Linked DNA regions of Homo sapiens: region 2 is linked to region 1. The links come from fine-mapping of genetic effects on gene expression. A gene starts in region 1. The other region holds a variant in brackets. All regions are shown on one strand. Distances are from middle to middle. Region 1 holds the start of PARP10 (poly(ADP-ribose) polymerase family member 10). Region 2 has its middle 11 kb from the start of MIR661.

What was found. PIP is the estimated chance that this variant, and not a neighbour inherited with it, causes the effect.
Region 2: its variant is the best candidate, but not a certain one, in a credible set for the expression of PARP10 in whole blood (INTERVAL, PIP 0.54).

What each region holds. Positions count from the first base shown.
Region 1 is chr8:143,981,427-143,992,463 of GRCh38, reverse strand. PARP10 (poly(ADP-ribose) polymerase family member 10) reads left to right here and starts at 6,004. Exons shown (of 11, transcript NM_032789.5): 1 at 6,004-6,106; 2 at 6,231-6,409; 3 at 6,489-6,743; 4 at 6,816-7,052; 5 at 7,136-7,920; 6 at 8,033-8,254; 7 at 8,360-8,456; 8 at 8,653-9,297; 9 at 9,399-9,532. The coding sequence starts at 6,105. GRINA (glutamate ionotropic receptor NMDA type subunit associated protein 1) reads right to left here and starts at 2,408. Exons shown (of 7, transcript NM_001009184.2): 1 at 2,265-2,408; 2 at 862-1,264; 3 at 660-772; 4 at 386-586; 5 at 91-219. The coding sequence starts at 1,240. RefSeq lists enhancers at 162-663, 5,328-6,231, 5,902-6,341 and silencers at 1,327-1,376, 1,209-1,503, 1,427-1,686, 1,817-1,956, 1,977-2,476.
Region 2 is chr8:143,951,183-143,962,219 of GRCh38, reverse strand. It overlaps a transcript of PLEC not described here. Among named protein-coding and RNA genes, the nearest start is that of MIR661, 11 kb to the right of the region's middle. RefSeq lists enhancers at 3,984-4,887, 10,500-10,689 and silencers at 8,200-8,499, 8,740-8,809, 9,060-9,109, 9,180-9,529. The variant C/T (reference allele first, on the strand shown) is at 5,945.

The DNA of each region.
Region 1 (11,037 bases):
TGCAGGTGGGAGAGGAACGGGCCATGGGGCTGGGCCTGGGAAAGCTGCTCAGCCCCTGCGGCCACAGCCCAGCCACGGGAGGCCCCTCACCTGCATGGAGAAGATGACGACGGTGAAGCAGACGGCTGTGGTGATGCCCACGGCCATGATGACTGCCTCGGTGTTGTAGAAGCTGGCGATCATCCCCACCATGTACGACAGGCTGGCGGTCAGGACCGACTGCAGTTGGGAGACACAGGCTGACCTTGGGTGTGTGCCCCCATGCCACCCCTGCCGGCCCCTGCCTCATGAGCACAAGGAGAACCACGGTGACCAGGCCCGGAAGAGTGGGCGTGTGGGACTGCATGGCCGGACCCAGGCACAGAGGCTCAGGTTTGGGGGTTACCAGTGCAACAAGGTTCCAGGGGTGCTTTCGCCGGAAGTCCCCACAACAGCTGAGGACGATGAGAGAGATGAAGAAGACAGCATAGGAGACATAGTAGGTCCAGACATTCTCCCGGACAAAGCCCTTCACCTCCGCAACAAAAGTGAACACAGACACCGTGGACAGGGTCACCGACAGCTGCAAGGTCAGCACTAGGAACACCTGGGGAAGGAGCCGCTCAGAGTCATCCGCTGGGAGCCACAGCCCCCACCGCCTTGGAGATGCCCCTACCCACCTTGCGGATGAAGGCCTGTCGGATGCTCTTGTCATCCCAGTTGGTGGCAGGGAAGTCCTGGTTGTCATAGTAGGATGGGGGACCCTCCTCCTGGTAGTTTCCATGCTGGGGTGCTGAGAAGCAGACAGGCTGGGTCAGCGCCACTCACAAGCACCTCCCCCTGCCCTCCCGGCCACCCCACCCCTCCCTTCCTGAGACTCACAGTCAGGGTCTTGTCCTGGGAAGACCTGTGGCTGTCCATAGGGGTTGGGGGGGAAGGGGCTCTGGGGATATGGCCCCTGGGGGTAGCCCCCTTGGGGGTAGGGGCCCTGTGGGTAGCCCTCTTGTGGGTAGGGGCCCTGTGGGTAGCCCCCTTGGGGGTAGGGACCCTGTGGGTAGCCCCCTTGGGGGTAGGGGCTGGGGCCATGGGGGTACCCTGGCTGACCGTAGGGGGAGGGCTGGAAAGGGGGCTGTGGGTAAGGGGCCCCAGGGTAGGGAGGCTGAGCATAGGGGGGCATGGGTGGCTGGGGCCCCCCCGGATATCCAGGGTTGGGGGGAGGATAGTTGTCCCCAGACACCAAAAAACTCTTTTCATGGGACATGGCCTCGGGTTCCGCGGTCCGCCCCTAGAGAAGACAGACAAGGAACAGTGGAACAGTTGGCTTGACGACAGCGTCGGGACCCAGCCCTGCGCAACTCCACCTGCTTCTGGGAACCCAGGGGGAAGCAAGGGAAGACCGTGACCTTTGCCCCGGGCTGTGGGGAGCCCCGGAGCCTGGGCCCGGAGAAGCGCGTGAGGACCGGACGGGCGGCGCCGTGGGGCCTTCCCAGGGCTCTAGGCCGCCTTTAGGGTGGGGGAGGGGCCGGGCGAGGGGACGACCGCCAGCCTCGGGATTTGGGGCTTGGGTCGTTTCTCACAAGCAACCGGAGGCCTGCGCCGCTGCCGGCGTCTCCCGGGTGGGAGCTCAGCGCGGAGGCTGGGGTCTCGGCCGGGGACGTGTGGGGTGTGCCCGGACCCTCCCCTCCGCATCCCGCCCCTTAAGCAGCTTTAAGGGGCCGGAGCCGGCGGCTATTTCTATCCCAGGAAATCCCCGGGCCATCTGTGACCAACAAAGGCCCGAGCCCCCCCACCCCCGCGAGCCCAACAACAGGGCCCAACGGCCCCTGGCTCCGGGGTGGGGGGATCGGGCCTGGATCGGCTGCCGGTGCCTGCCAGTGGGGTACGCCGGGAACAGCGGGGTGCGGGGGTGTGTGGGGGATGGAAGCGACCACGGGGCGTGCGGGGAACAAAGCGGGCGTGGGGCGAGGCGGGTAGGGGCTGCGGCCGTGGCACTGGCACCGAGAGCGGATGGGCCCTCCGCGGGCCGGGGGCGCACAGGGTCACGGGTCCAGCAGTCGCCGCAGCGCGCCGCCCCCTCCCTCCGGCTCCAGGCCGCCGCGGCTCCCCGCCCCCACCACCGCCGCCACCTCTGGCCGCGAGCTGCCGCGCGCCCCGGCCGGACCAACTTACTGACCCGAGGCGGCCACGCTCGGATGCGCAAGATCCGCGTGGGGGCGGGGGCGGGGGCGGCAGGCCGCGCGGCGCAGCGGGTCAGAGGCGCTCCTGGGCTCGGGCCGGGGACTCACCGGTGGCCGGGCGCCGCAGGCCGGTACGCACGGTGTCCGCTGCGCGGCCGCGCGGTGATGGCCGATGCGCCCGCACCCGCACCCGCTCGGCGGCCGCTCAGCTGGGCCTGCGCCTGCGGCTCGGAAGACGCAGCGGGGCCTTGTGACGGGGCGGGGCAGGGGGCGGGGCCGGGCGAGCTTCGGGGTGGGAGGGGCAGGTGGGCGGGGCTTCCGCGGACCCCTCCCGCTGCGCCGCCTTGCGTGTTCCTCTTCGCTCCGGCCAGAGGCCCGCCTCTCACTGTCTGCCGAGGGGTGGGGTCGGGCGGTGGGCGCTGAAGACCCCTGGAGGCAGAAGTCTGGTCTGGCCAATTTGACTGGCCGTTCGGTAGTTAAGAAATTTATTCCTAAATGCGGGATTTGCTGAAGCTGCCCGGGACTGACCGTCCGTTCTCGGCCTTAAAACCCGACGTTCACTTCTTTTCATCCAGATCTCTCCCAAATCAAGAAGCCTAATCCTTTAGTTCCCAAATCGAGGCCTCGTGGTTTAATTGCCCCATTTGCTCTGTCAGCCCAAACTCTGCCAGGCCTGCTACTAGAGACCCTTTTTTATTTTTTTAATTCTTGTGGATACATAGTAGGTGTATATTTACGGGCTACATGGGATGTTTTGATACAGGCATGCCATGGATAATAATCACATCAAGGTAAATGGGGTATCCATCAGCTCAGGCATTTTGTCCTTCGTGTTACAAACAATCCAGTTATACTCTTGGAGTTGTTTTAAAATGTACAATTATTCTTGACCACAGTCACCCTTTGTACTAACAAATACGATGTCTTGTTTTCACACTAGAGACCCTGAACGCTCGCTTGTCTGCCTAACGTCCTCACAAGCTGCGAGGGGCTGAGGCTTGGGGATGCAGCAGGACTGGAGGCCAGGCCACCTCCCTGCTTAGCTCCCAAGTCCTCTTGGGGGAGCAGTGACTGACACAGGCAGGGTACATCCTGCTGCCAGCCTTCCCACCCGGGGCCCAGACCCCACCTGCCCTCCCGCCCTTGGAGGGCCGGCCTCTCCCAGGCCGCTCTGAGTCCTGCACCTATGGTGCGCTGGCGCAGTGTTTAGCAGCCGGACCTAGTGAGGGGAAGCCTGGGGTGCGTGTTTTGCACATGCGCGTGGTGTGAATACTCCACCGGGGCTGGTTTCAAGTTACCCCCAGCTGGACAACCAGTCCACAGAAATTCCCGAAACTGTACCAGTCTGCTTGTGGTGTGAGTGGTGCCTGTGGCAGGCCCTCTGCAGCCAGGGTCGGCGTAATGGATAACCTGTGATGAGTTCCATTAGAGAAAACGTGGAAAAAGCAGGGATGGATTTACCCTTGTAGAAGGTAACTTCTACCTTTGTAGAAGCAGAAGCTCACAAAATTTGAGAGACCTTTAAGAAAAATAAAATGCTTGCTGGGCGCGGTGGCTTACGCCTGTAATCCCAGCACTTTGGGAGGCCGAGGCGGGTGGATCACAAGGTCAGGAGATGGAGACCATCCTGGCTAACACGGTGAAACCCCGTCTCTACTAAAAATACAAAAAAAAATTAGCTGGGCGTGGTGGTGTGCACCTGTAATCCCAGCTATTGGGGGGGCTGAGGCAGGAGAATGGCTTGAACCTGGGAGGCAGAGGTTACAGTGAGCTGAGATCGTGCCACCGCACTCCAGCCTGCGTAACAGAGTGTGACTCTGTCTCAAAAAATAAATAAATAAGTAAATAAAAATAAAATAGCTGGGTATGGTGGCTGGCACCAGTAATCCCAGCACTTTGGGAGGCTGAGGCAGGTGGATCATCTGAGGTCAGGAGTTTGAGACCAGTCTGCCCAATAGGGTGAAACCCTGTCTCTGCTAAAAATACAAAAATTAGCTGGGCATGGTGGTGCGTGCCTGTAATCCCAGCTACTTGGGAGGCTTAGGCAGGAGAATCCCTTGAACCCAGTGGGTGGACGTTGCAGTGAGCCGAGATCACGGCACTTCACTCCAGCCTGGGTGAAAGGGCGAAACTCCGTCTCAGAAAAAAAAAAAAAAAAGGCAGAGTAAGGGAGATCATGCCAGAGGGGTGGCCATGGGGGTTTGTGGGGAAGGTAGGGCCAAGCAGAGGGAAGGGCCAGTCCCAGGCTACTGAGGCAGGAGTGGCCTGTAGCTCTGCAGGAAGAGCTGAGAGCCTGGAGCCCTCTGAGCATCAGGGTGTGCAGGGGGCATGGGGCCAGAGAAGGGACTGAGGTCTGGTCAGGTGCAGCTGGGCAGGGGGCAGGTCCTCAAAAGGACTTTGGGTTTTTGTTTTTTTTTTAGACAGAGTCTCACTCTATCACCTTGGTTGGAGTGCAGTGGCACGATCTCAGCTCACTGCAACCTCCACCTCCCAGGTTCAAGCTATTCTCCTGACTCAGCCTCCTGAGTAGCTGAGATTATAGGCACCTGCCACCATGCCCGGCTAATTTTTATATTTTTAGTAGAGACAGGGTTTTACCATGTTGGCCAGGCTGATCTCAAACTCCTGACCTCGTGATCCACCTGCCTCAGTCTCCCAAAGTGCTGGGATTACAGGCATGAGCCACTGCGCCCGGCCCCCAGGACTTTGGTTTCTACTGTTGCTGATGCTGGGAGCTGTAGCAGCTGCTGGTGTCATTTTACAAGGCTCACCCTGACACCTCTGTTGAGGACCCACCATGGGAGTGGCAGACAGAGACTAGTTAAGAGGTTAGCCTAGCTACCTAGCGAGAGATGCTGGAGGCTGGGACCAGGGTCGGGGCAGCAGAGGTGTGGCATGTGCAGGGCTAGGAGTGCAGGCTGGCCAGGGTCCTCAGCTCCCTGGAGGGAGGAACAGCAGGGGTGGGGCTGGGTTTTGGTGGGCTGAGGGGTGAGTGGGAAGTAGGAGATGGAGAGTGGTAGTGGCCACAGCTCTTTGAAAGGCTGGAAGCAAACGGAGCTTGGGTGATGTGGGAGATCTGTGGCGAGTGGGAGTGTGGACTCTGAAGGCACCGCCCAGGTTTGAGGCCTGGTGCTGCTATGGGCCTGTCTGCACCTCCGTTTCCCTTTCTGTGGTGAGGATTAGCGGCAGCAAGGAATGCAGTGGAGCCATTACCTTGTCACCTTCTGAGGTTACTTGTGACGATGCCAATGATGGTGTGAGATGGGGAGGTGCAGGCAGGACAGAAAGCTGCAGGAATGGGCAGGCAAGACCTGAGGCGGGAGGAAGGCTGTGCTGCAATGCACATTCTTGGAGACCAAGGGTGGGGAACCGCCCATGCTCAGCACCTGGCAGGTGTGAGGGACCAGGAGCAGGGTTGAGAAGGTTGCTGGGGGCGTTGAAGGCCAGCCTTGGCCGGGGGCGGGCCTGGAGACCCAGCACTTTGTGTGCAGAGGGTGTCATGGACACAGAGGCTTGGAGATCCTGAGTGAGGGGCAGTGACTCAGGCCCCTTGGTGGGTTTAGTGGGGCGGGTGATTGGCCATTTTCAGGCCATGGAGGCCAGGGGAGTGGAGGGCCACCAGGGGACACTCCTGTCTACCCTGCCAACCAGGGGCTGGAGTGGGCCAGGTAGGGCCGGTGGGCTGGGCTGGGTTGGCTGGAGGGTCCTGAGGGGTCCAGCCTGGCCAATACCTCCTGGTCAGCTGGGGGTTGAGGCTGCAGCAGGAGAGGAAGCATCTGAGCCCCAGTACCCAGGCCTCAGCGCCCAGGGCCCAGCTGCTCCCTCCCTCCTTCCGTCTTTCAGTTTCACTTTTGTTTTCCTGCTCCCAGCAGGGTTAGGCTTGCTGAGGGGCAGGCACAGGAGTCCTGGCTGAGCTCATGGCCTGAGGCTGCCTAGCGGCCACGGGGAATGTAAGTGCTGTATGTGGGGCCACCCATAATGGGGGAGCATTGAGGACACACCTTGGAGGGGCCTGGGGAGGGGCAGGAGGGGTGGAATGGGCTGTTTCCCTACCCACCTGATGCCCCGTCCCAGGGTTGCAATGGCGGAGGCAGAGGCAGGGGTGGCAGTGGAGGTCCGTGGACTGCCCCCTGCCGTGCCCGACGAGCTGCTCACTCTCTACTTTGAAAACCGCCGACGCTCTGGAGGGGGACCTGTGTTGAGCTGGCAGAGACTGGGCTGTGGGGGCGTCCTCACCTTCAGAGAGCCTGCAGGTGAGAGGGCTGGCTGAAGGGACAGCCTGGGTGCCCTGATATTCTAATGCCTGACATCCTGCCCCGCCCCTGCCCACAGACGCCGAGAGGGTCTTGGCCCAGGCAGATCACGAACTACATGGTGCCCAGCTGAGCCTGCGGCCAGCTCCACCACGAGCCCCTGCACGCCTGCTGCTCCAAGGACTGCCCCCTGGCACCACGCCCCAGCGCTTGGAGCAGCATGTCCAGGCCTTGCTGCGGGCCTCGGGGCTCCCAGTACAGCCTTGCTGTGCCTTGGCCAGCCCCCGGCCAGACCGGGCTCTGGTCCAGTTGCCCAAGCCCCTTTCTGAGGCAGGTGAGAGGCAGGGTTGGGGTTGAGGTGCTGGCTAGGGGGGATTCCCTGAGCTGACCTGCACATACCCCACAGATGTCCGTGTCCTGGAGGAGCAGGCCCAGAATCTGGGCCTGGAGGGGACCTTGGTGTCCCTGGCCCGGGTTCCCCAGGCCCGAGCGGTGCGTGTGGTGGGGGATGGTGCCTCTGTGGACCTGCTGTTGCTGGAGTTGTACCTGGAGAATGAGCGCCGCAGTGGTGGGGGGCCCCTGGAGGACCTGCAACGCCTACCCGGGCCCCTGGGCACTGTTGCCTCCTTCCAGCAGTGGCAAGGTGAGTGGGGCTGGGCAGACCCAGCCGACCGTCCCTCTCCTGCAGAAATCTGACAGGCTTTCTGTCCTTTCCCTTCCTCCAAGTGGCAGAACGAGTGTTGCAGCAGGAGCACCGGTTGCAGGGCTCAGAGCTGAGCCTTGTCCCCCACTACGACATCCTGGAGCCCGAGGAGCTGGCTGAGAACACCAGTGGAGGGGACCACCCGTCCACCCAGGGGCCTAGGGCTACCAAGCATGCTCTCCTGAGGACCGGAGGGTTGGTGACGGCTCTGCAGGGTGCAGGGACTGTGACAATGGGCTCTGGCGAGGAACCAGGGCAGTCAGGGGCCTCTCTGAGGACAGGTCCCATGGTGCAGGGTAGAGGGATTATGACAACAGGCTCTGGCCAGGAACCAGGGCAGTCAGGGACCTCTCTGAGGACAGGTCCCATGGGGTCTCTGGGACAGGCAGAGCAAGTCAGCTCGATGCCCATGGGGTCTCTGGAACATGAGGGGCTGGTAAGCCTGAGGCCTGTGGGGTTGCAGGAACAGGAGGGGCCCATGAGCCTGGGGCCTGTGGGGTCTGCAGGCCCAGTGGAGACCTCTAAGGGGTTGCTGGGGCAGGAGGGCCTGGTGGAAATTGCCATGGACTCACCAGAGCAAGAGGGGCTGGTGGGTCCCATGGAGATCACCATGGGGTCTCTGGAGAAGGCAGGGCCTGTGAGCCCAGGATGTGTGAAGCTGGCAGGGCAGGAGGGCCTGGTGGAGATGGTGCTATTGATGGAGCCAGGGGCGATGCGCTTCCTGCAGCTCTACCATGAGGACCTTCTTGCGGGCCTGGGAGACGTCGCTCTCTTGCCACTTGAAGGACCGGATATGACTGGCTTTCGGGTGAGTGACCCCTCAGGACTCCTCACCTTCAGCCCCCTCCTCCTACTGGGGACTCAAAGTACCTTTCCTGTGCTCTAAACCTGCAAACTCCATCTCTGCAATGGCCCTGCAGCTCTGTGGAGCCCAGGCTTCCTGCCAGGCGGCTGAGGAGTTTCTGCGGAGCCTGCTGGGCAGCATTAGCTGCCATGTGTTGTGCCTGGAGCACCCGGGCAGCGCCAGGTTTCTCCTGGGCCCAGAAGGGCAGCACCTTCTCCAGGGGCTGGAGGCTCAGTTCCAGTGTGTCTTTGGGACAGAGCGCCTGGCCACAGCCACGTTGGACACAGGCCTTGAAGAGGTAGAGATGGAGTCCCACCCCTGCCCTCCCCTTTCTCACGCCTCTGCCCCAGGCCTCCTCTGCCCTTGCCCAGAGGCTAGTGGTCCTGACATCCTCTCCCTACAGGTGGACCCTACCGAGGCCCTCCCAGTGCTCCCTGGCAACGCCCACACCCTGTGGACCCCAGACAGTACAGGTGGTGACCAGGAGGACGTGAGCCTGGGTAGGGCTCCCTGGGAGCCCTCAGCACATCCTGTGGCCCTCACTTGACCTCACCCCCTGCCCTGCTCTGTGCTCCCATCTGTCTACTGACCCATCTTAGGCCCACCCTGTACCCTAAAAACTTGCTCCCCATCTTTCATCCATTCCAACTCCTCCTGGGTCCAGCCCCTGACCCAATGGCCTCTCCCTGCCCCCAGAGGAGGTCCGAGAACTGCTGGCCACCCTGGAGGGCCTAGACCTAGACGGGGAGGACTGGCTGCCTCGGGAGCTGGAGGAGGAAGGGCCTCAGGAGCAGCCAGAGGAGGAGGTGACCCCAGGGCATGAGGAGGAGGAGCCTGTGGCCCCCAGCACTGTGGCACCCAGGTGGCTGGAGGAGGAGGCCGCTCTGCAGCTGGCCCTCCACCGGTCACTGGAGCCTCAAGGTCAGGTGGCTGAGCAGGAGGAGGCTGCTGCCCTGCGGCAAGCCCTAACCCTCTCCCTGCTGGAGCAGCCCCCGTTGGAGGCAGAAGAGCCCCCAGATGGGGGGACTGATGGCAAGGCCCAGCTGGTGGTGCACTCGGCCTTTGAGCAGGATGTGGAGGAGCTGGACCGGGCGCTCAGGGCTGCCTTGGAGGTCCACGTCCAGGAGGAGACGGTGGGGCCCTGGCGCCGCACACTGCCTGCAGAGCTGCGTGCTCGCCTGGAGCGGTGCCATGGTGTGAGTGTTGCCCTGCGTGGTGACTGCACCATCCTCCGTGGCTTCGGGGCCCACCCTGCCCGTGCTGCCCGCCACTTGGTGGCACTTCTGGCTGGCCCCTGGGATCAGAGTTTGGCCTTTCCCTTGGCAGCTTCAGGCCCTACCTGTGAGTCTACCTCCTGGACTGAGGGACGGTGGGGTGGGCTGGTTAGCAGGGGCTAGTGCCCCAGGCATGGCTCTGACCCCCCGCTTTTCCCCATGCATCAGTGGCGGGGCAGACGCTGAAGGGGCCCTGGAACAACCTGGAGCGTCTGGCAGAGAACACCGGGGAGTTCCAGGAGGTGGTGCGGGCCTTCTACGACACCCTGGACGCTGCCCGCAGCAGCATCCGCGTCGTTCGTGTGAGTCCATGCCCTGTCTCTCTGGCCTCATGGCGTCCTGGGCTCTTGCACCATTAGCGCCTTGCCAAGTCTGTGGCCTGTCCCTCTCGCCTACATCAAGGTCAGCTGACCAGGAGCTGACAGGCTCCCAGCCCTGTTCTCTGCCCAGAGGGCGTTCCCAAAGTGGGTAGGGAAACAGGAGGGAACAGAGTGGGGGCCTTGGGATCTGATAGGCCTGAGTGAGGGTCCCCACTCTGCCACTCGTGGCTGGGTCAGCAGGGACTATGGGACCAGCTCCAGGCCTCAGTTTCCTTATTTGGAGCATGGGGCGGTGATGCCATCTTGTGGTCATTTTGAGGATTACTCGCTCCACAGATGCGTCCCTTGTGCTGTTCTGGGCGCTCTTCTGCCTCCACAGAAAGGCCCGGGCTCGCTGCGGTCACTGTGCTGATGACACTGCGCGGGGCACTCTCTTTTTTGAGACGGCATCTCGCTGTGTCTCCTGGGCTGGAGTGCAGTGGCACGATCTCGGCTCACGGCAAGCTCCGCCTCCCGGGTTCACGCCATTCTCCTGCCTCAGCCTCCCAAGTAGCTGGGACTACAGGCGCCTGCCACCACGCCCGGCTAATTTTTTAAAAAATATTTTTAGTGGAGACGGGGTTTCACCATGTTAGCCAGGATGGTCTCGATCTACTGACCTCGTGATCCGCCCGCCTCGGCCTCCCAAAGTGCTGGGATTACAGGCGTGAGCCACCGCGCCCGGCCTTGCACGGGGCACTCTCAACTCTTGATGCCCAAAGTTGTGCGTGGGGCCAGCAGCATCACCCTCCACCAGGAGCTGGTCAGAAATGCAAAAAGAACCTCTGGCTGTCCCCAGACCTCACCACCATCATCACCACCATCACACCATCACCATGACCCTCACCACCATCATCACCACCATCATCACCATCACCCCATCACCATCACCACCACCATCACACCATCACCATGACCCTCACCACTCACTGTCATCACCACCACCATCACCATCACCATCATCACCACCACCTTCACCACTCACTGTCGTCACCACCATCATCACCACCACCTTCACCACTCACTGTCGTCACCACCATCATCACCACCACCTTCACCACTCACTGTCGTCACCACCATCATCACCACCACCTTCACCACTCACTGTCGTCACCACCATCATCACCATCACCTTCACCACTCACTGTCGTCACCACCATCATCACCACCACCTTCACCACTCACTGTCGTCACCACCATCATCACCACCACCTTCACCACTCACTGTCGTCACCACCATCATCACCATCACCTTCACCACTCACTGTCGTCACCACCATCATCACCACCACCTTCACCACTCACTGTCGTCACCACCATCATCACCATCACCTTCACCACTCACTGTCGTCACCACCATCACCACCACCTTCACCACTCACTGTCGTCACCACCATCATCACCACCACCTTCACCACTCACTGTCGTCACCACCATCATCACCACCA
Region 2 (11,037 bases), 30 kb after region 1:
CTTTTGGATCTAGGGCCCATCCAGGTAATCCAAGATGATCTCATCTCAAGATCCTTTATTTAATTATATCTGCAGAGACCCTGTTTACAAATAAGGCCACATTTATGAGCTCCAGGGACATGGACATAGATTTTTTTGTGGCCACCATTGGACCTACCCAGCCATCCTGCAGTAGTTGGTTAATGTAGAACTTACACATTTTTGTTCCATAGTCATTGTTTTAAAAAGCGTGCACAGTGGGCTGGGCACGTGATTACAGGTGGCACATGCCTGTAATCCCAGCACTTTGGGAGCCTGAGGTGGGAGGATCTCTTGAGCCCAGAATGTCAACACTGCAGTGAACCTGGGCTACAAGAGCAAGACCCTGTCTCAAAAAGAATAAAAAAATAAAAAAGCATGCACAGTGTTCTTTAGTGTGTGTTAATTTATCTGTAATTTCATGATTTAATGTTATGAAGTATTTTAGACATAAGTAACTTCTTTTACTTAGTGATACAGCTTGGGCATCTCTCTGTGACATTAATTTACAATACAGCATTCCCCTGTATGGAAACCATATCATATTTAACCAATCAATCCTTTCTCCTAGGACACGGAGTTTAATTTTGGATTTTTGTATTAGAAATGACTGCAGTGAACAGTGTTGTAGCTGGGTCATTGTGCATCTCTATGACTGTTGTTAAAAAGGGAATTTCTGGCCAGGTGCGGTGGCTCACGCCTGTAATCCCAACACTTTGGGGGGCCGAGTTGGGCAGATCACGAGGTCAGGAGTACGAGACCAGCCTAACCAACATGGTGAAACGCTGTCTCTACTAAAAATACAAAAATTAGCAGGGTGTGGTGGTGCACGCCTGTAATCCCCGCTACGCAGGAGGCTGAGGCAGGAGAATCACTTGAACCTGGGAGGCGGAGGTTGCAGTGAGCTGAGATCGCGCCATTGCACTCCAGCCTGGGCGACAGGGCAAGACTCTGTCTCAAAAAAAAAAAAAGGAATTTCTGGGTCAAGTGGTTTTCAAAATTTAAGCTTTAATTTACATCAAGATACTGTTTTTTACCTATCGTATTGGCAAAAATCAAAAATCTGGATTTCTAGGTTCTGTTGCTGAAGCTGTGGGAACCAGGCCAGAGAAAGCGTCTGTCAGAGCCACAAACGCGCAGTGTGTGTCCGAGCAGACGATGGTCACTGGCCTGAGTGCGCTCAGAGGCTGGGCCCACACGTGCCGCTCTGCATGGCCAGACGTGGGTCACGGTCCCCGTGCAGAGCGGGAGGCCTCCAGCTGTGGGGTGGGTGGGAAAGCAGGGGCAGAATGGTGCCCGGAAGATTTCACCGTTTGTGTTAAAAGGAAGAAAACCAAGAATCACATGGTATTTGCTTGATTTTCTGTAAAGAAATTCTGGAGAAACAAACAGGAAGCCACTAACAGTGATTTTCACACTGTGTGTGTGGGTGGGGGGAGACAGGGAGAAGGGAGGGGAGCAAGACTTCTCTGTCTACTCTCAGTGTTTGAGTCACGTGAATATTTTCTATTCCAACACGATTTTGATTTTTAAAGTTTAGTGAAGGGAAGAATGTAAACTGTTATAAGTTCTTTTTTTTTTTCTTGAGACAGAGTCTTGCTTTATCACCCAGGCTGGAGTGCAGAGATGCAGTCTCAGCTCACTGCAACCTCCGCCTCCCGGGTTAGAGGGATTCTCCTGCCTCAGCCTCCTGAGTAGCTGGGATTACAGGCACCCGCCACCACACCCGGCTAATTTTTGTATTTTTAGTAGAGACGGGGTTTCACCTTGTTGGCCAGGCTGGTCTCGAACTTCTGACCTCAGGTGATCCGCCCGCCTTGACCTCCCAAAGTGCTGAATTACAGGCATGAGCCACTGGGCTTGGCCTAAGTTTTTATTTTATTTTATTGTTTATTTTATTATTATTATTATTATTATTTGAGACGGAGTTTCGCTCTTGTTGCCCAGGCTGGAGTACAATGGCATGATCTCGGCTCACTGCAACCTCCGCCCTCCGAGTTCAAGCGATTCTTCTGCTTCAGCCTCACAAGTAGCTGGGATTACAGGCATGCACCACCATGCCCAGCTAATTTTGTATTTTTAGTAGAGACAGGGTTTCTCCATGTTGGTCAGGCTGGTCTCGAACTCCCAACTTCAGGTGATCTGCCTGCCTCGGCCTCCCAAAGTGCTGGGATTACAGGCGTGAGCCACCGCGTGCCTGGCCAGTTCTTTTTTATTTTTTTTGAGACGGAGTCTCACTCTGTCGCCCAAGCTGGAGTGTAGTGGCATGATCTCAGCTCAATGCAACCTCCACTTCTCCTGCCTCAGCCTCCTGAGTAGCTGGGACTACAGGCGCCCGCCACCACACCCGGCTAATATTTTGTATTTTTAGTAGAGATGGGGTTTCACTGTGTTAGCCAGGATGGTCTCAATCTCCTGACCTCGTGATCTGCCCGCCTTGGCCTCCCACAGTGCTGGGATTACAGGCGTGAGCCACCACACCAGGTTTCAGACACAATTTTTAAACAATTTCTAAGTTGCTGGCTAGGTACTGCAGTCGTCGTCCCTCCAGCAGTGCCCAAGTGGGCCGACTCCTCCCACCTGCCCAGCACCCGGTGTTGGAGCTTCAGACAAGTCACATGGCCTCGCTGTCTGACGGGAACTTGTGTAAGGAGTCTCCTGGCAGAGCCAGCGGGAGGGTGAGCAGAACTGCGGCCGCGTCAGGTTAGCGCGGCATCTGCCACCTGGGCCTCTGCATCCCGGACCCCGAGCCTGGTCCTGGAGCCATCCTGGAGCCGGGGCGTTCCCTGCATCAGCTCTGACCGATCGTCAGTTATCTTATTCCAGCACGTTTTGTGCTGATGAAGAGTTTTTCCTGCTGTATTTTCCTAACTTGTTATTACTGGCCTAAAGAAATCTCTCGGGTCTTTTAACTGCGTTTGAAGCCAGCCTCTCAATGAACTTTCTCTGAGCTCCAGTAAATGGTGAGTTGAGTTGTTTCAGGTGCCAAGAGGAGCAGTGCTGACTTGGGTAAATGCTGTCCCATGTCCTGGCGCTGGACCGAGAGCTGCGCCTGCACCGTCCGCATTCACCCTCACACGCCCTCCCCTCAGCAGCCTCGCCTCACACTGGGAGGGTGCCCCGCTGTGCTACAAGGGTCATTTATTTGCATGTTAACGATGTAAGCTCATTCCTTGTTATAAATACTGGTTTTTATCAAATGAGCTGTCGAGATTTTCTAGATCAATATACCGGTTTTCTCCTTTAATCTGCTAGTGAAGTCAACGATATTAACAGAGTTCTGGGAAAGTGCATTATCCCTGAACTCCAGGAATTCATTTCTTCTCTTGCTCCATGTTTCCTGTGGTGACACCTTCGTGTCTGGTGCTGGGTGAGGCAGCCGCCCCAGGGGCCCACAGGTGTCTCGGTGTTGGAGGGCTGAGAGGGAGGGAAGGGGGAGCCACCATGGATCAGGTGAGAAGCCTCTCCACAGAGGCCTGGCGAGGTCCACCCTGCTGCAGCAGAGCAGGTGCCTGCGTGAGGAGGGCCTCCAGAGGGCAGCGGCAGGGCTGTGGTGGGACCTGCTTGTGCTCGGAGAGCACTGGCTGCTGTTGTCCAGTGCTTGGAGGTGAGGGGCAACGAGGGAGGCTACCACTGTCTTTGAGGTGAAAGGGTGGTGGCCAGGCCAGGGTGTGGTGGAGACAGTGGGCACAGGACAGGTTTGAGAGATATTTGGGAACGATGGGCCCCCTAATGGATGGTCATGTGGGTGGGACCCAGGACCTTCCCCGCAAATTGGTCTCTAGCAGACACCTGGTATTGAGATACTCTTGTACTGGGCTGCAGGGGAGAGAGGAGAAGGATGTGGCTCGGAGAGATGACCTCTGTGCCTCCTGGGCCCTCACTGGGACTCCCAGCAGCCCTGGTGGGCATCCAGTCCCGCAGTGGTGGCCCTCCACCCCAGAAATCCTGCAGGCTGGCTGGCCCGACTGAGCTCGCACTGAGCCCCACCCTGCGCAGGGGTGGCCTCCAGAGCATGGAAGGCTCTCCTCCCACCTGTCCCGCAGCATCCGCAGAGGCCGGGCTGTTGTTGGGCCAAGGCTGCGAGGCAGAAGCCTGGGGCAGGTGAGGTGGCTCCTGTGGACCTGCCGCAGGCTCAGGCGGGGAGCAGAGCAGGGGTCTGTGCCTCCGGAGGGCTGAGTGTGTGCTGGATGTATCTGGCAGGATTTCACTGGGCCTGGTCTCCCTGGGGCTATTGTCGGGGGCCCCAGGTGGAGGTATCTGCCAGCAGGGTGTCTGCCTGTCGCAGGTCGCCTCTGCATGGGGTCACTGGGTCACAGCCCACTGGCCTGCTCCACCACCACCAGAGAGCCCCAGCAGGGCAGGCTGCCAGGGGGTTAGGGGCTGGGTGGGTGGGTGGGCGTGAAGATGGGGCAGGGAGCAAAGCTGAGGGCAGGCAGGGTGGTGGTGGGCAGGGCCTCAGGGGAGGGCCCATCCCATTCGCAGGTGTGGTGTGGGGGACAGGGTTGGAGCCCCTTCTTTGGCCTGGGCCTGTGGCCAGGGCAGCCAGGGCCTGGGGACTGGTGAAGAGGAGGTTGCTCTGTGCCCAGACAGAGGGGTTGGGAAGGAGGGAGGGCTTATCTGTGGTGCCTGGGCTCAACCTTGGTTCTGGGGTCCCCAGTGGTGTGGGGAATTTGCAGAGAGCTTCATGAGGATTTGGCTTTGCCCAGGGTGTGAGACCTGGCCAGGAGACCTGATGGCACCCCAGCTGGGCATGGGGGCCATGCTGGGTTCGACCAGCAAAGCAGAAGCTAGAGGTAGGGGTTTTCCGGAGGCACTGGTGCTGGTGAGCCCGACTGCAGCCTGGGGGTCCCTGCAGTTCACTGGCCTGGACACACAGACCCGCGTGCTTCTTCGGCAAGACTCCTTTGTGATCCATGAATTGGGGCCAGAGCGATGAGATCTCCTGGGCAGTGGCCGGGGCTTTGCTTCCCACGCTCCAGAGCTGCGTCACCAGGGCGCCCAGCTTCCTCTACCCCAGCTCCCTTTCCTCCCCGCTGCCTAAATCTCTTGCTCGTGGGCCCTTCGCTGCCAGCCTGGGACCTGCCTGTCCTGTTGAAATCCCCGGCTGTAGCCCCGTCTCCAGGCGCCCCCCTCCCGGCTGCAGCCACCTCCACCTTCTTGGGGGTTGCCTGGACTTGTTTCCTCTACGGCAAGGCCTTGGTGCCTGTGGCCTCTCTTCCTGTGCTGGCTGCCTGCGGCCCGTCCCCACATAGCTGTCCCTTCCTTTGGGAAGCCTGTGCCGGGAAGGAACCACAGAGCTGACTGACGTGCAGCTGGCTGAGCCCTTCCCAGGGTCATCGTGGCCGCCCCCACTTCCAAGGCTGCACCATGTGGCCACCGTTCCAGGCAGGCTGGGCTGGGCAGTCTCAGGCTCCTTCATGGGAACTTGCTGCTGCTGCAGCTTGTCGATAAGCCTCTGGCTGCGGGAGACCACAGGTGACCATGGTGGCCACTCACAGGCGGGCAGCTTGACTTCAGGGGGGAAGTTAAAGGCGGAGTCGGTGCATGAAAAGCTGTGTGTTCCTTCTCTGAACAGCTGTGTGCCCTCACCTTCTCATTAGCTTGAAACCATGATCCTATCTTTTTGTTTGTTTTCGAGTCAGTCTTGCTCTCTCCCAGACAGGAATGCAGTGGCGCAATCACGGCTCACTGCAGCCTTGGGTGGGCTGGTTCAAGCCGTCCTTCTGCCTCAGCATCCCAAAGAGCTGGGACCACAGGCCCAGGCCACCGTGTCAGGATAGTTTTTTAGTTTTTTGCAGAGACGGTGTCTTGCTTTGTTGCCCAGACTGGTCCTGAATTCCCAGGATCAAGTGATCCTCCTGTCTCAGCCTCGGAAAGTGCTCAGCCACCACGCCTGGCCAATCTTATAACATTCCATTTTATG[C/T]GTTTTAATCCTTTAAAAAAATCTCCCTGGCCGGGCGTGGTGGCTTATGCCTGTAATCCTAGCACTTTGGGAGCCCAAGACGGGTGGATCACCTGAGGTCAGGAGTTCGAGATCAGCCTGACCAACATGGTGAAACCCCATCTCAACTGAAAATACAAAAATTAGCCCGGTGCGGTGGCACACATCCGTAGTCCCAGCTGCAGAGGCTGAGATAGGAGAATTGCTTGAACCCAGGAGGCAGAGGTTGCAGTGAGCCAAGATCACACCATTGCACTCCAGCCTGGGTGACAGAGCGAGATTCTGCCTCAGTTAAAAAAAAAAAAAAAAAAAAGTCTCCCTAGGCTGAGGAAAATTTTTATGCATTAAATTAAAAAAATTGATCTGGACCAGGCAGTGTGGCTCACACTTGTAATTCCAGCACTGGGAGGTGGGAGGATTGCTTGAGCCCAGGAGTTTGAGACCAGCCTGGGCAACACAGAGACAGACTGTCTGTATAAAAAATTAAAAGATGAACTGGGAGTGGTGGTGCACGCCTGTAGTCCCAACTACTCAGAAAGCTGAGGTGGGGGCATCGCTTGAGCCCAGGAGGTCGAGGCTGCTGTGAGCCGTGATTGAGCCACTGCACTCTAGCCTGGGTGACAGAGTGAGACCTTGTCTCAAAAAAACAAAACAAAAAAAAAACAGCATTTTTTAAAAATGTATGAACTTTTTAGATCTCTTTATAAATATCTGTCACTTTCACTTGAGGTTTACTAAGGAAGTATGATTCACTTGCAGGCCAAATTTAGGTTTATCCAGATACAGCTCAGTAAAACCTAGCTGGGAATTCAGCAGTGGCGCGATCTCGGCTCACTGCAACCTCAGCCTCCTGGATTCCAGTGATTCTCGTGCCTCAGCCTCCTGAGTAGCTGGGGCTACAGGCGTGTGACACCATGCCTGGCTGATTTTTTTGTGTATTTTTAGTGGAGATGGGGTTTTGCCATGTTGGCCAGGCTGGTCTCAAACTCCTGACCTCAAGTGGTCCACCTGCCTCGGCCTCCCAAAGTGCTGGGATTCCAGGTATGAGTCCCCGTGCCCGGCCTGAAATTCTGTTTTAATTCCTCACTTCACCATTTTCCTTAAGTTTGGCAACTGGTGTTTCTTGAGACTCCCCACACCCCAACTGGCTGAGTCCCAGGGAGGGCAGGGACGGGCAGGGGGACGAGAGACTCCAGAACTGCTGGGTCTACGGTGGAGGTGGGGCTGGCTTCTGGCCCTTTGCCTGTTAGCTCGTACCCGTGGGAGCTGCCGGCCTCGCTCCTGGATCATGGTCACGTCCTCCATGCCAGCCCCAGCCTGGCGCACAGTGGGTCTGTTTACAGGAGGGGAAGGACTTGCGGGTGAAGGCAGAGGAAAGGCCTTGCTGGAGACTGAGGCAGGCTAGTCACTTCTATCTTGTGGAGGCTGTCCTGCCCCACACTACCAGCACGGACTGGGGTGGAGCACAGTCCCGGGGCCAGTGTTGAAGGGGTGCCCTGGTGTGGGCAGGGCCCAGCATTCCTCCGTGCCCCCTGCAGCGCAGTGAGTGAGGCAGAGCTGACCTCACCCTGCCAGTGCTACCTGCTCCCCCAGGCGTGCGCAGTGACACACAGCTACTCCTGCGGGCTGAGGAGGCTGACCCCATTAGCCATAGGGGTGGTTGGATCAGAGCAGCTGCGAAGGGTCCCTGGTGGTCGTGGGGGGTGGGTGAGGGATGGAGCTGCAGTGTCATCTGGCGGCAGTGGAGATGCTGGCGAGTGGGCAGACTGGGGGGCGCAGCCAGGAGGACCTGTGGGGCTGCCTGTGGGGCATCCTGAGGCTGGGTGGGAGAGGCAGAGACCAGGGTGCAGGTCGGACCTGTCATCTTTGGAGCCAGTGTACAAGGTGCCTGACCCAGGGCTGCGCAGAGGCGAGACGCCCGGGGAAGGGGCACACTGCTGGGGCCGGGGAGGTGGGAGGTGGCCGACCAGGGTCTGGGGGCTTGATCTCAGCAGCCTGCCAGCCCAGGCCCTGGAGTTGGGCCGGCTGAGGAAGTTACTGGGAGATCTGGATGGGTGGGTATCTCCTGCAGGGCGCGGGTAACGGCTTCAAGGCCCTCGCACGTGTGTCCCACAGGCTGTTCTAAGCATGGCTCGTTGCAGTGGACTCGGGGGGCTGTGGGGTGGGCCGGGGGCTGCGGAGCTGGGGAGTGGGCCGTCCGAGCGCTCCTGGATCCGGCCTGGTGACCTGGCAGTCTGGCTGGGGTTAGCGGGGTCGCGTGCCCCAGAACCACAGGCTGGGGGGGAGGGGTGCGCGGTGCGGCCGGGAGCATGCGCCCGGGGCGGCCCTGTCCGGCGCATTGATCAGCTGAAGCCCCGCCCCTGGCCGGCAAGCCCTGCCCCGGACCTCCGGGCTCCTCCCCCGGCTGCGGCGCTGGCCTGGGCAGTGCGGTGCGGGGCTGGACTCTGCCTGGTGGTGGCACAGCCGCCCTCAGCCCCGGCGCAGACATGGACCCCTCGCGAGCCATCCAGAACGAGATCAGCTCCCTCAAAGGTGCGGTCCTGGGGCCGGGCCCGAGCCGGGGGGCGCGGACCACACAGTGACCTCTGGCTGGGTGCAGTCCACGCAGGGTGGCGGGCAGGGTCTGCCATCCCTGGGGTGACACTGTGGGTCGCTGAGCCAGAGCCGCAGGAGACCCCAGACTCGTCCCCCTCCGGGCTCCACCTGGTTCGGGGTCCTACTGGGCTGGCTTCAGCGGCTCCGCAGCCCTGCAGGAGCGTCGGGGGCGGGGTGGCTGCTGCAGCGGCGGCGGCGGCGGCGGCGGCGGCGGGGCGGGGACAGGGACACAGTGGGAGCTCAGCCTTCACAGCAGGGTCAGCCCCTTCCACCCGGCCCGAGTTTGCCGCCCACAACCTGGCGTCCAAGGGGCAGGGCAGGGCTGGGGGACCACTGTGCAGAGGCGCCGGGCCGGCTGGCCCTGAGCAAGTCCACACTGCGGCTCTTTGTCTTGGGGTGGGGTGGGGGGGCTGGGGGCTGCCCAGGAGCCCTGACTGGTTGCTCTGGAAACCCAAAGGGGTCTGGAGTGGGGGGAGAAGGGGCCGCCCAGTCGCACACCCTGGCCCTCCCAGTGCTGAATCAGCTCCCGCTTCGGTTCCCACAGGGTGGGGGCAGGGGGCGGTAGCTTCCGCCCGGGGGTCTTGGGGGACGCCTGGACCCTGGCGCAGGGGTGTGTGTGCTTCGGGGGGGGTGTGTGCTGCAGGAGGTGTGTGCTGCGAGGCGGGGGGGGGTGGCGCATGCCGCAGGGGGGCGTGTGCGGAGCTGGCAGGGTGGGCCAGGAACATTCTGCTCCGGGCTCCTCCCTGCGGCTTCCCTTCCCGCCTGCAGGCCCCTGGCTGGTGGGAGGGAGGGGACTCCCGCCGAGCCCCGCCCCATCTCTGCTGGAGGAAGCTACCGCCCTTTCCTGCCCGGAGCCGGCTTGGGGGAGGCGGGGCTGGTTGGGTGGCGGCCCAGCGGGGGTCAGTCCTGGCACCCCTGCAGGCCTGTGTAGGAGAGAACCTAGGTCCACGTGCTTTTAAGAGGCCTTGGGATCATTTTGGGACAGTGTGGGTATCGTGGGTTAGTTTGGTGGGGCCCTTGGAGATCTGGGGGGGATTAGGTTAGGGAATCAGGCCAGGAAGATGCGGTCGGCCTGCCGGGAGTGCAGGAGGTCAGTGTGGGGGGGTGCGCTGAGGGACTGGCCAAGAGGGTAGGGCCTTCTTTGGGCACAGGGCTGGGCAGGCTTGGACCCAGCTGGTGTTGTTCCCAAAGCCACAACCCTGGTGGGTGGAGGGTCCGCAGGTGCTGGTGGTCCGAGGGGCGTGGCCACTGTGGTCCCTACATCTTCCTGGAGCCTCACCTCCTGAGGCTGGCCTTTTCCTGCCTGGGGCTGGCTTCAGAGGGAGGGAGAGCCATGCCGCAGCGAGCTGGCCCTGCCAGAGGGCTGTGGGAACCGTGGCTATGCCTTCGGAGTTTCCCCGCCACCACACCTCTGTGTACGCAGGCGTGCGCGTGCGCGTGCGTGTGTGCGCGCGTGTGTGTGTGTGTGTGTGTGTGTGTGTTTGGAGCCTGCACCGTGGCGCCATGGCGACGGCCCCATAAACCCGCCCCCACAAGCTGCTTGTTGGCCGCCTGCCGGCTGCTGGCCAGCGCCTCCCACCTCGGGATCCCCCCTCTCTCCCACTCCCCCCCACCGCCCTATTTATAATCAGTTCCCGGGTTTGCCGGGCTTGGTGGGAAGGGGTGTGTCGGCTTGGGGCGAGCAGCGATACGGGTGGGGGTCCATGGAGCACAGCGTGGGACAGTGGGAGTGTTGGGTGCGGTTCTCATGCCTGGACCCTCAGTGGGGGCGGCAGCAGCGGGGCGGGGAGGGGGGGGTGGATGATGGGTGTGGCTGGGCCAGGCCTGCAGGGCCTCACAGGGCAGTTTCCTCTTCCCTTCCCTTGGGCCCTGGCCGTCTTCTGGCCTGGCATTCTTCCACCCTGCAGCCATCCATCTGGCCTGCAGACGGGCACTTGGGCTGCCCAGGGTGGGCATCTGTGGGCGGTAGGGACTCGGTGACTTTCTCTGTGGCAGCGGCTGGGAATCTCTGGCCTCCAACAGCTGGGTTGGAGGTGGGGGTGAATTGAGGCCCCTCTGAGCCCCCTAGCCGGTGCTCTGCTCAGAGGGCTGTGGGCTTGGAGAGGCCACTCCTAATCTGGCCTGGAATGGGAAGTGTTAACTTGAGTGGCCACTGCCTCTAAGCCTGGTGTGTGGAGGTGGGGGCTCTGTCCGTTTGCCCGCCTGATGGACAGCAGCAGCGGTGCCTGCAGCCCTCCTCATGTGCTGTGGCAGCTGCCCCCAGCCGCTCCCCTCGGACTTCCTCCCGCAAGACCCCAGCTTCTTCCCCAGGCCCTAGTCCTCTCCGCTCAAGCCTCGCATCCCTCATCCCTCCAGGCCTGGCAGCCCAGCACCCCCCTTCAGATCCTTGTGAAGCCGGGACACCAGAGCCCACATCCCTGCCGAGTACCCCTCCTGCCCTCAGCCCCCCTGCCTGCCCTGCCACCCTCTTCTTTAGACTC